2 separate regions of the Homo sapiens genome follow, and region 2 is linked to region 1. Evidence: fine-mapped expression QTL. A gene starts in region 1. The other region holds a variant in brackets. All regions are shown on one strand. Distances are from middle to middle.

Evidence for each region. PIP is the estimated chance that this variant, and not a neighbour inherited with it, causes the effect. A credible set is the group of variants that fine-mapping cannot tell apart.
Region 2: its variant is the best candidate, but not a certain one, in a credible set for the expression of TMPRSS11A in testis (GTEx, PIP 0.60).

What each region holds. Positions count from the first base shown.
Region 1 is chr4:67,960,643-67,966,033 of GRCh38, forward strand. It overlaps TMPRSS11A (transmembrane serine protease 11A), which reads right to left and starts at 2,851. Exons shown (of 10, transcript NM_001114387.2): 1 at 2,741-2,851. The coding sequence starts at 2,751.
Region 2 is chr4:67,933,883-67,939,273 of GRCh38, forward strand. All of the region lies in intron 3 of TMPRSS11A (transmembrane serine protease 11A), which reads right to left. Among named protein-coding and RNA genes, the nearest start is that of TMPRSS11A, 27 kb to the right of the region's middle. The variant G/A (reference allele first, on the strand shown) is at 3,186.

The DNA.
Region 1 (5,391 bases):
TAACTAACATGGTGAGTTTGCTATTTTTGTTTTAATTCTGAAGGTATAATTTTAGAATATATTAGGAATTGCTCATGGCAAATTAAAAGTTGATTAAAACAATCAACTGAAGTGAAATTAAAATGTAAAACATGAAAGCATACAAAGGACCTGCCCAGTACTATCTTTTTGTCTAAAGGTGATGAGGAAGAGGAGAATTCTGATTTTTTGCATTTATTAAACAATGCTGAAAATAAAGAGCTATGGGAAAAAGAGATGCCAGACTTCTGGGAACAGGATAAGAATCTCACCTGAAGAAGTCATTTGGTATTTTATCTTTTGTAACAAAGATAATTGAGGTACTTAAGTGAGTGAATCATGCAATTAACAAAAGTGTAGGAAAAAGTAGGTGTATGGCTATTCTTAAAGGAAAATTCAAACAGATTCACACCAAAACAGAAAGAATCCCTGCAATACACAGAAGAGGGTAACAGAACCCATAGAGAAGAGATCCAAGGTTCATGATAGCAGAAAGAGCAAGGATACAAATCGAATATATTTGACAAGGCTTCCATATTATGTTTCTTGTTAATGGAGAAGTAAGAATGGCTAGCATGACTGTAGAACATATTGTAGAATGACTGTGGGTGAGACATAGGGTATTGTAGTAATTATTAACCATCTGCTTTGCCTCAATCCTTAAGCCTACTTGTTGGTGTGACCTGACATCTCCTGCAAATCTTCCAAATCCTAAATTAATATTGCATGAATTTGGCTTAAAGAAACCATAACCATTCAATGTTTCCCACCATTTCCTTTCTTTTTCCTTTCTTTTCTTTTCTTTCCTTTCCTTTTCTTTTCCTTTTTTTTTTTTTTTTTTTTTTTTTTTTTTTTTTTTTTTTTTTTTTGAGACAGAGTCTTGTTCTGTTGCCCAGGCTGAAGTGTAGTGGCATGATTTGGCTCACTGCAACCTCCGACTCCCAAGTTGAAGTGATTTTCTTGCCTCACCCTCCCAAGTAGCTGGGCCTACAGGTGCATGCGCCACCATGCCCGGCTAATTGTTGTATTTTTAGTAGAGATGGGGTTTCACTATCTTGGCCAGGCTGGTCTCTAACTCCTAGCCTCAAGTGATTTGCCTGCCTCGGCCTCCGAAAGTGCTGGGATTACAGGCATGAGCCACCACGCCCAGCCTGTTTCCTTTATCAGCAGGTGTCACTGATGTCTGGAACAATGGCATTGACCACTGATTCTACCCTTGTAATTTACATCCCTAAGCTGCAAACACTCCTATAAATATATTAATGTTCATAGAAAAGGACACTTTTGGTGCCCATAATTATGAGCTTGATATTTTAAAAGAGTGATTTGGAGAATATGAAATATGAAAAACTGGAAATCCTGTTTTACAATATCATGATTCTATAAACATGGATATGCATTTTCACATTCAATATACTTTAATAATTTAATAGTAAATTATTAATTTTTAAAATAATTTTTTAACAGTCAAACATTAATGCTAGATATTTACATCTGCTTGCCCATTCATTTGTTCAACAAATATTTATGGAGTACTGGTTATGTTTGAAGCATTGAAGACCCTTTCTGAGGGTCTCAGAGACTTTTTGTCAATTACTATGTGATTACTGAAGGACTGATGCAAACATGCATTTTGTGAGTGGGGAAGGAAACCTAGTGAAGTTCACTAACTTAGTGGCCAATCTCGTATCAAATTATCATCTCTGAAATTCACTGGATGGAATCCTTGCCACCCAGACAGGCTGCAGTAGCTGATAAGGAAGACTCGACTCCAAGGAGTTGAGGACTGCAAGGAATTATAGCCATGATTCTGGCTTCTGACAGCCCTCTAGACCTGGAGACGTCCCCTAACTTCTGTTTTCCTCAAATTCCTTGCTTTAAAATGGGAGTTAACGATACTTGTGATACTTGTTCTACTTAGCCACAAGGCTGTCTTGGCTATTAAAGGAAATAACATACATAAAGATGTTTCAAAAATAGTACAAGTCTAAACAATGGTGAAATATTATTATCATCATGGCTGTTTAAAATCACTATTTTAACTGTATATAAAGTTATGCCAAGGAATCTTATTTTTTCATATTCTTTGCACATGGCATACCCCATTTTGAAAAACAATACCCAAATAATTCATGTATTTTTTCTTCAAAACGTAATAGGAAGAATTGTAGAGAATAGGCATGTTTTCCCAGTATTGAGCTTGTTTTCTCATTCTCCCACATGGAAGCCCTGGGTCTTCTACAATGGAGGCAGGTGTCTCTGCAGCTATTTACCTCTCAATCTGCATTAGTCCCACAAGGACCCACCATAAGGGACAAGTAAACACAGCGAAAGAGAAAACGCTATAGAAGCTAAATTTTGTCAATATTGCTGAAAGAAGGCTTGTTTTAAAACATATAAACACCCTCCTTCCACACACACAAAAAAATCAAAACCAATTAAGACACAATGTAATATAGTTTTTCATTAACCTTTTCTAAAATCTTAACTATTGAACTTGGCCACATGAAATAATGCTAACAATTTTTATACAAAAACTTTGATTTCAAACACAGAAATTAATTAATCCAGGATGCTATGATAATTCCAGAAATTTAAAAAAATCCAGTGCAGATTGAATCCACCAAAGACACCTCACTAGCAGTCCTCTTACACATCAGGAATCCGGCCACTGACAGACAGTACATCAAACAAGCCATCTATAAAACAGAACTGAACTTACCGATACATCATGTACAGGAGGAAGAATATGATCTTGCAGGTCTGCACCCACTGAACTCAACTTTCTAATCAACTATATGACATCTCTAGATGTATTAGAAGTCTACGGCTCAAAGAAATAAGGAAACAAATTACAAGTAGTTGAAATGAAACTAGTTTGACAAGTCTGAACAGAGAAGTTTCAACCCATAGAAGGCCTTGAAGAAAGCCAGAGACAGGATAGTCCCAACAAGAAAGCAATATTTTTTTAGTATGGACTAATTTTGTTAAAGGAGGAGAAACTGGTTACAAAGATTAGAATGAGAAATACCTTAGGAATGTACTAGAATTAAGAATTTAAAGAAGATTATGGTAGGTATATAAGTATTTTAAAGAAACTGTCACATAAAAGCTCTAGATAAAAACAAACAGATCTTAAAATCTAAATACATAATAAAAATATAACTCAAGAAATATTCCATAAATTCATGTTGAACAGCAGGTATCTTACAGAAGCATAGTGAATTTACTAATACATAATAGTTTTTTTAAATACCCACTTCTGAGAGTACAGGCAAATAAATTAATATAAAACTATATGTTTCCCCAAATGACTTAATGTGATAAAACATTGACAGACATTTATCAGAATGAAAAAAAGAGAAGAAATAAACATTTTCAATTAGACAAACAACATATTAATACATGTTCTTTGTAAAAAATGAGACTAAAACCATGTTTGACAATGTCCTACTCTTGGTCCCTTTCCTTCTCCCTCAGAAGCACCTAGTGTTAGGAGAAGGGGTGTTAATGCTTATAATGCATAAAAAACATTTATGCATTTTAATTTAAAAGTATCACATTGTATACATTATTGTGCAGTTTGGTTGTATTCGTTTAACATTGTGAATATCATTCCATTTTGGGGAAAACAGATCTCCCTTATTCTTTTTATTTTTGGAGACGGAGTCTCCCTCTGTCGCCCAGGCTGGAGTGCAGTGGCCCCATCTCGGCTCACTGCAAGCTCCGCCTCCCGGGTTCACGCCATTCTCTTGACTCAGTCTCCCAAGTAGCTGGGACTACAGGACCACGCCTGGCTAGTGTTTTTTTTTTTTTTTTCTATAGTTTTAGTAGAGACGGGGTTTCACCGTGTTATCCAAGATGGTCTCAATTTCCTGACCTGTTGATCCGCCTGCCTCGGCCTCCCAAAGTGCTGGGATTACAGGCGTGAGCCACCGCGCCCGGCCCAGATCTCCCTTATTCTTTTTACCAATTGCACGAAGGACGAAAATATTTAGTGTTTCTTGTTCATACCTTATAACCAAATGGTACCCATTTAAGGGGGAACACTACTTTAAATAGAGGTTTTCCAAGTCATTGCTTCTAGCACTTGGAGAAAGCACATTTGAAATCTTTTTACACAGTACAGCAGAGTGCTTTAAGTGCATAGGCTCTCTAGGAGTGCCAAGGTTCAAATCTCAGAAGTTTCCATGTCTGTAAAATAGGAATAATATTAATTATCATCTTTTAGGGTTTTTGTGAAACATATATGAGTTAATGCTGTGCATGTAAAATGTTTAAAATAGTGCCTCTTGCAATGGAAGCAAGAAGAAACATCGGCTATTATTATTAGGACTGTATTTCATTTGCATATGTTTTCTTACCTAATATTTAACAGACAAAACCTTAGTGAAGGTTATTCTAGTGAACTATACAAGGAACACACATAGGAACATTCTTTCCTTCCTTTTCCTTCCTTTCCCTCTTTTTCCTCCTTTTCTTCTGGCATAGTGCTTCATGGAATAGTGAATAGGGCATGGACTTAGAATGGAATTCTGACTCTGCTAGTTAATTTGAGCAGATTACTTAAATCCCTTGAGCATAATTTTTCTCCTATTTAGAATGGGTTGATACCATCTATATGCAGGACCTTTGTGAGTGTTAAATTGCATAATGTATGTGAAACTGTCTAGCAAAATGGCAATAAACAACGGCTTCCATTGTGAGTGGCAGAAGTCCTCATAGACAGAGCTCTAACTTTGGAGAGAGATATACCAGCCTGCAAATCCTGGCTTTACTCTCTAGCTGCTGGTTGGCATTTTTGTGTCTTAACTTCCTTGTCCGTAAATGGAATGAATAATAGCTTTCCAGACTATTGTAGGAATTATAGGAAACAGTATATGCAAAATGCCCCTCACACTATCTGGTACAAATAAGAAGGGAATCATGGACTACATTAAGGTAAAATGATGACTGCTATGAATGTCAGTGTGGCAGAACATAAGAATTTTGTTCAGAATCTCTCTGTGCATCCTAATACAATCTGGCATCTTAGCTTTCTGTCTATTTCATTGCAGGAGTGTAGAAGACTAAATGTCTGAATATCAGCATAAACTCCAGAATTGGCAGTGGGAGTTTAATAAGCTATAGGCCAACAGGAGGCAGGCAATATGACATAGCAAACAAGAAACACAACTTTGAAAGAACCAGAACCAAATTTCTGTCTTCTAATAATTATGGATTTGAGTAAATTACCTAACTTTCTGTACTTAATTTTTCTGCACTAAGAATAGTAATATATGTACAAACTAAATGAGAATAGCTCAATGGTGTTATGCGGAGTAAAAGAATCCAGATTCAAAAGTTACATATTGCATAATTCCATTCATATGA
Region 2 (5,391 bases), 27 kb before region 1:
CAACCACATTTGATTCCTGGCCATTTGTAACTTTTTGGTGAAGGCATTGGATGAAGTTTTTGACTCTGGATGACATCATCAATCTGGCACCGTGCCTGCTATGAATGTCTAAACCAAGCACCAATTTTATCTTTGAATTGTTAGGTTGTCTGGGAAGATAGGAGCTGTAAAAATAACATGAGAAGAATCTAGGCAGAAGTAACTTTGGTGATCACAATAATAAAAAGGATCCTTCTTTATAAAATTCTAGGACTCTCTCTCTAGAAAAGTCTCATTTACTACATCGGAGGAGGCCTTAGAATCTTTAGGTGATACAGGTAGTCTGAGGACAACGCTTTGAGAAATGGGGCAGAGGGACTGGTAAAAAGAATTCTGATAAAATGAATTTACAGCAGGAGGAAAATCAGAAAAAACATGAACATAAGTTTTATTGTAGAATGGAGCTTATGTATAAACTAGCTTTCTAAAGACCCTGAAATTGTTTCCATGGCAGATGATGGCTTTCATTATTAGAAGCATTCTTTTTGCCAACGTTCTGGCATTCCAAGTTCCCAGAAGTTTCAGAGAAACTTATATATTTAAAGTTGTGTGCCAGGTTGTTATAAATCTATTGTTATCTATACAACCTAATAGCATTAGCAATTTGTAAATCTATCCTATCTCTCTCTTTAGGGCATTTCTAGAATTTTGTAGTTGGAGTTTGTCTCCTAGCATTGAACAAAAGACCCTCTTTCAGGGTAGTATCTCTTTCTGCTTGATAATTTTGACATGCTGGAAATTACACTGAGATTAAGTTCCAAGAGGGCAATTGAAGGTTAGTTGGATATTTAATGAAAGAGTGAGGGAGAGGCTGTCAACTCAAACAAACAGACTCGCCCAGCCATTCAGCTTTCATTCCTGAATTAACTCTGTTTATACATGTTGCCTGCTTTTCTCTGCAGGTGCTTCCTGACTGGCTCCCCTTACAGCAGTCAATGTATTCACTTAGGGAGTGTTTTGTGGCTAACACTGTAAACCTCAGATAGATATGTCACTGCAGACTGGCATATGGAATATAAATGAGATATAAAAGCTGTTTTTTCCAACGTAACACCAGGTGAGCTCCTTAGAATTAAAGAAACCAAAACCATGCTGTGAAAAAAAACTTTAGATCCTATTGCTTTCTCCTAATTACAACAAGAGTAACATGCAAAGGATATTATATAAGAGGGATTTTTAAAAGACACTTTTAGCCTTAAATAAAGCTTCACTGAGGTTTCATTGCCACAAGGATTGAACTCAAGGTAAAAATAGGGAATTTGAGCCTTTGAGCCTCTGTCCACAATGTTAGACATTCAAGGTCCTCTCCCTCTGTGACCAACTTGCCTGGCTCCATCTTCAACACCACCAGTACTTTCAGGCATGGCCCTCATTTTCCTGCATACTCACGCCTCTCAGGCTGTTCCTTTGGTCTGTAACAACCTTCTCATTCTGCAAGTTCTGTGTTCCTGAATCACAACTATCCTTCAAGGCCAATCTCAGATAATACCTTCTTTGGGGATATTCGTTAATCTCAAACTGACCTGTCTTCCCTCTGTCTCAATTTTTCTTATCCCTCTTATACCTTTTATTCTTTAATGTAAACATATATTATATATTTATGCAATATATTCACTATATATTTATGCAAATATATAGTCTCTTTTATTAAACGGCAAACCCTTTATGCATAGAGATGGCAATTTATCTTTTCATAGTCTATAAAATCTAACATAGTGCTTTGCATGCTGTTGGTATGTAGTATATTTTTGTTGAATTAACAAATTGATAAAAAGGTGAGAATTTATTTATCAGAAAGTTTTGCATTTACCAGGAAAATTTTATAAGACTTTTTAAAGTGCTTGCTTTACATCAGGTTGAGATCAATGCTCCTAGAGAAAAAAGAAAATTACACATGAATTATCGGAAGAGATTTTTTTTTCCTGTTTTTGGACATTTTAGGTAATTGATTATTTGTGGAAAGCTCCTCCTTGGTAAGACTGTAATAATTATAATAGTGGGAATCACTGTTGTCTGCCATATATGCACCAAGCACAGATGTCATTGTGTTTGAGCTCATTTGCTTTCAAATCAGCCCTCTAAGGTGAGTACTATGATTATTCACGTTTCATAGAAGAGGAAGTGACTTGCCCAAGTTGACACCACAGAGTTCACTGAAACCAGGGCCATGTAGCTTCAGAGCCTGTTAACGCCTTCACAGTGCCTACCTCAGGATGAGCATGCAGGTAGGTTCTCACTAAGACCTCCTACCCACTGATGGGCAGCAAGCAGTTTGTAAGAGGATCAGAAACTGTTGCACCCCTCTCCAAAGGCAGCCTATTTTCTTTACTCTCCAAAAATAAGAATCATAATCTTGGTAGTTTTTAGTGCAGTCCTTTTAAGTTCGTATCATATCTGTATAAAACTCTAGGTGTTTTTTTTTTTTTTGGATCCAAGAAGTCAGCTATGAACCATTCTCTCAAGCCTGGATAGAGCTTAGTCAACCTGAGCACTGAGTGATGCTCACAGAAGGCTTTTTGGCCTTCTTGGGGTCAAGCCTAACTGCCACATCTTTAAGTGCTGTGTCTATTGGAGAAAGCAGTTGGATCCAGTGTCATACAAGGTGTGTGGGTGTGGAGGGTGCCATGAAACTGTGACTTTCTGATCACCCTAAACAAAAAGGTAATCAGATCATCAAATGGGATGTGATATTTTGTGATGCCATCAGTCATTTCTTTGATTGCACTGGTCCTTCTTCAGTGTTTCTTTGTGGAATGTCAGAAAGAAATGGACAGACATCTGTCACTACTCACGTGTAACAAGTAGCAATATATTAGATATCCATATCCCAAATTGGCTTATATTTCTGAGATCACAAGGCAAAATATTTATAGAATTTAAAGATTTGCAATTAAGGATTTTAAAGAAAAAAGTATTAATTCTCAGTGTACAACAAAAACCTAGATCTTTGAATTGCTTTTGTAAAAGAGGAAAATATCTCATTTGGATCTATTTAAAGCTGTACTAAAAATATTTAAAACCAGGATACCCAAAGCAAGGGAAGGTCATTATTTAGAAGGTTCATGTCCTCTCCAGATTTGTTGTCTTCTAAATCTCTAAATTGGATTAGTTTATGAGAGAGAGAGAATCATTTTTCTTAGCCTTTT[G/A]TAGTGCCTAACATCATGCTGTATTTGCTGAATGATGATGATAAACTAAATAGATTCTCCTGTGAAGACTATGCTGTATTTACAACTTTATCAGGAAATTTAGAAATAGTTCATATTACTTCTTTTCTCAAAAACTTCCCTCAAAAAGCATACCCATCCACACCTTTCTTCCAACTATAGATTGTTCACACTAGATGTACATACACATGTCAATATATCCATCAGCTTCCTTCATCTTTCTCTATTACAGTTCCTCCTACCTTTGCCTTCCTCACCAAAAACTGATACAGGGAAATGAGAAAGAGAATATTTTTCTCTAATAAGTATACCTAATGTATCTGTCAAGAAAAAGTTAGCTAGCACAGCATAGAGGATTTATAATCTTCATGGATTTAAAAAATGAAATGAGAGAAGAATTGATTTAGATTTTAATAATTTTATCTTCTGTCTTAGCTGAGTCCCTTCCTGACAGTAGAACAATTTAGTGGAAAGAGCACATGTGTGGAGTTGCCTAGATGACTTCAAATCTCCCCTCCATCATTTTCCAGCTATGGACCTTAATTTCAGAAGCTTGGTTCTCTTACCTGTAAAGAGGAGATAAAAGTGCCTTCCTTGTGGTGTTACATCCATGTTGCTGCAAAGGACATGATTTCATCCTTTTTTATGGCTACATAGTATTCCATGGTATATATAGATATATATACATATATATCTCACAGTTTCTTTGTCCAATCCACCATTGATGGATATCTAGGTTGATTCCACATCTTTGCTATTGTGAATACTGTGGTAATTAATGTGAGAGTGCAGCTGTCTTTCTGGGAAAAAAGTTTATACTCCTTTGGGTATACACCCAGTAAGAGGATTGCTAGGTTGAATAGTAGTTCCATTTTAAGTACTTTGAGAAGTCTCCAAACTGCTTTCCACAGTGGCTGAACCCATTTACGTTTCCAACAGTATTTAAGCATTCTCTTTCCTCCGCAGTCTCATCAGCATGTTATTTTTTTAATCTTTAATAATAGCCATTGTAACTGGTATGAGATATTATCTCACTGTAGTTTTGATTTGCATTACTTGGATAATTAGTGATGTGGAGCATTTGTTCATATGTTTCTTGACTGCGTTGTATGTCTTCTTTTGTGAAGCATCTGTTCATGTTCTTTGCCTACTTTTTAATGGCGTTACTTGGTTTCTTTTGCTTGTTGAGTTGTTTAAGTTCTTTACAGATTCTGGACATTAGACCTTTTCAGATGCATAGTTTGCAAATATTTTCTCCCAGTCTGTAGGTTGTTTGTTTACTCTGTTGATAGTTTCTTTTATTGTGCAGAAGTTCTTTAGTTTAATTAGGTCCAACTTATCAATTTTTGTTTTTGTTGCAGTTGCTTTTGAGGACTTAGTCCTAAATTCTGTGCCAAGACTGATGTCTACAACAGTATTTCCTAGGTTTTCTTCTAGGGTTCTTGTATTAATTGTTTGTGGTCTTACATTTAATTCTTTACTGCATCTTGAGTTAGTTTTTGTATTTAGTGATAGGAGTCCAATTTCATTTTTCTGCTTCTGACTAGCTAGCTATTCCAGCACCATTTATTGAATAGAAAGTTCTCTCCCCATTGCTTATTTTTGTTAATTTTATTGAATATCTGATGGCTGTAGATGTGTGGCTTTATTTCTGGGTTCTCTATTCTGTTCTATTGGTTTATATGTCTGTTTTTGTACCAATGCCATTCTGTTTTGATTACTGTAGCCTTAAAGTATAGTTTGAAGTCAGATAATGTGAGGCCTCTGGCTCTGTTCTTTTTTATTAGGAGTCCTTTGGCTATTGGGGCTTTTTTTTTTTGTACCATATGAAATTTACAAAAGCTTTTTCTAACTTTGTGTGGAAAATTATGTTGGTAGTTTGATAGGAATAGCATTGAATCTGTAGATTGCTCTGGGCAGTAGGGACATTTTAACAATATTGATTCTTCCAATCCATGAGCATGGAATGTTTTTGCATTCATTTGTGTCATCTCCGATTTCTTTCAATAGTGTTTTTTTATTCTCCTTATAGAGATCTTTTACCTCCTTGGTTAGATGTATTCCTAGGTATTTCATTTGTGTGTGTGTGTCGCTATTGAAAATGGGATTGTGTTCTTGATTTGGTTCTCAGCTTGGACATTATTGTTTAGAAATGCTACTGAATTTTGTACATTGATTTTGTATCCTG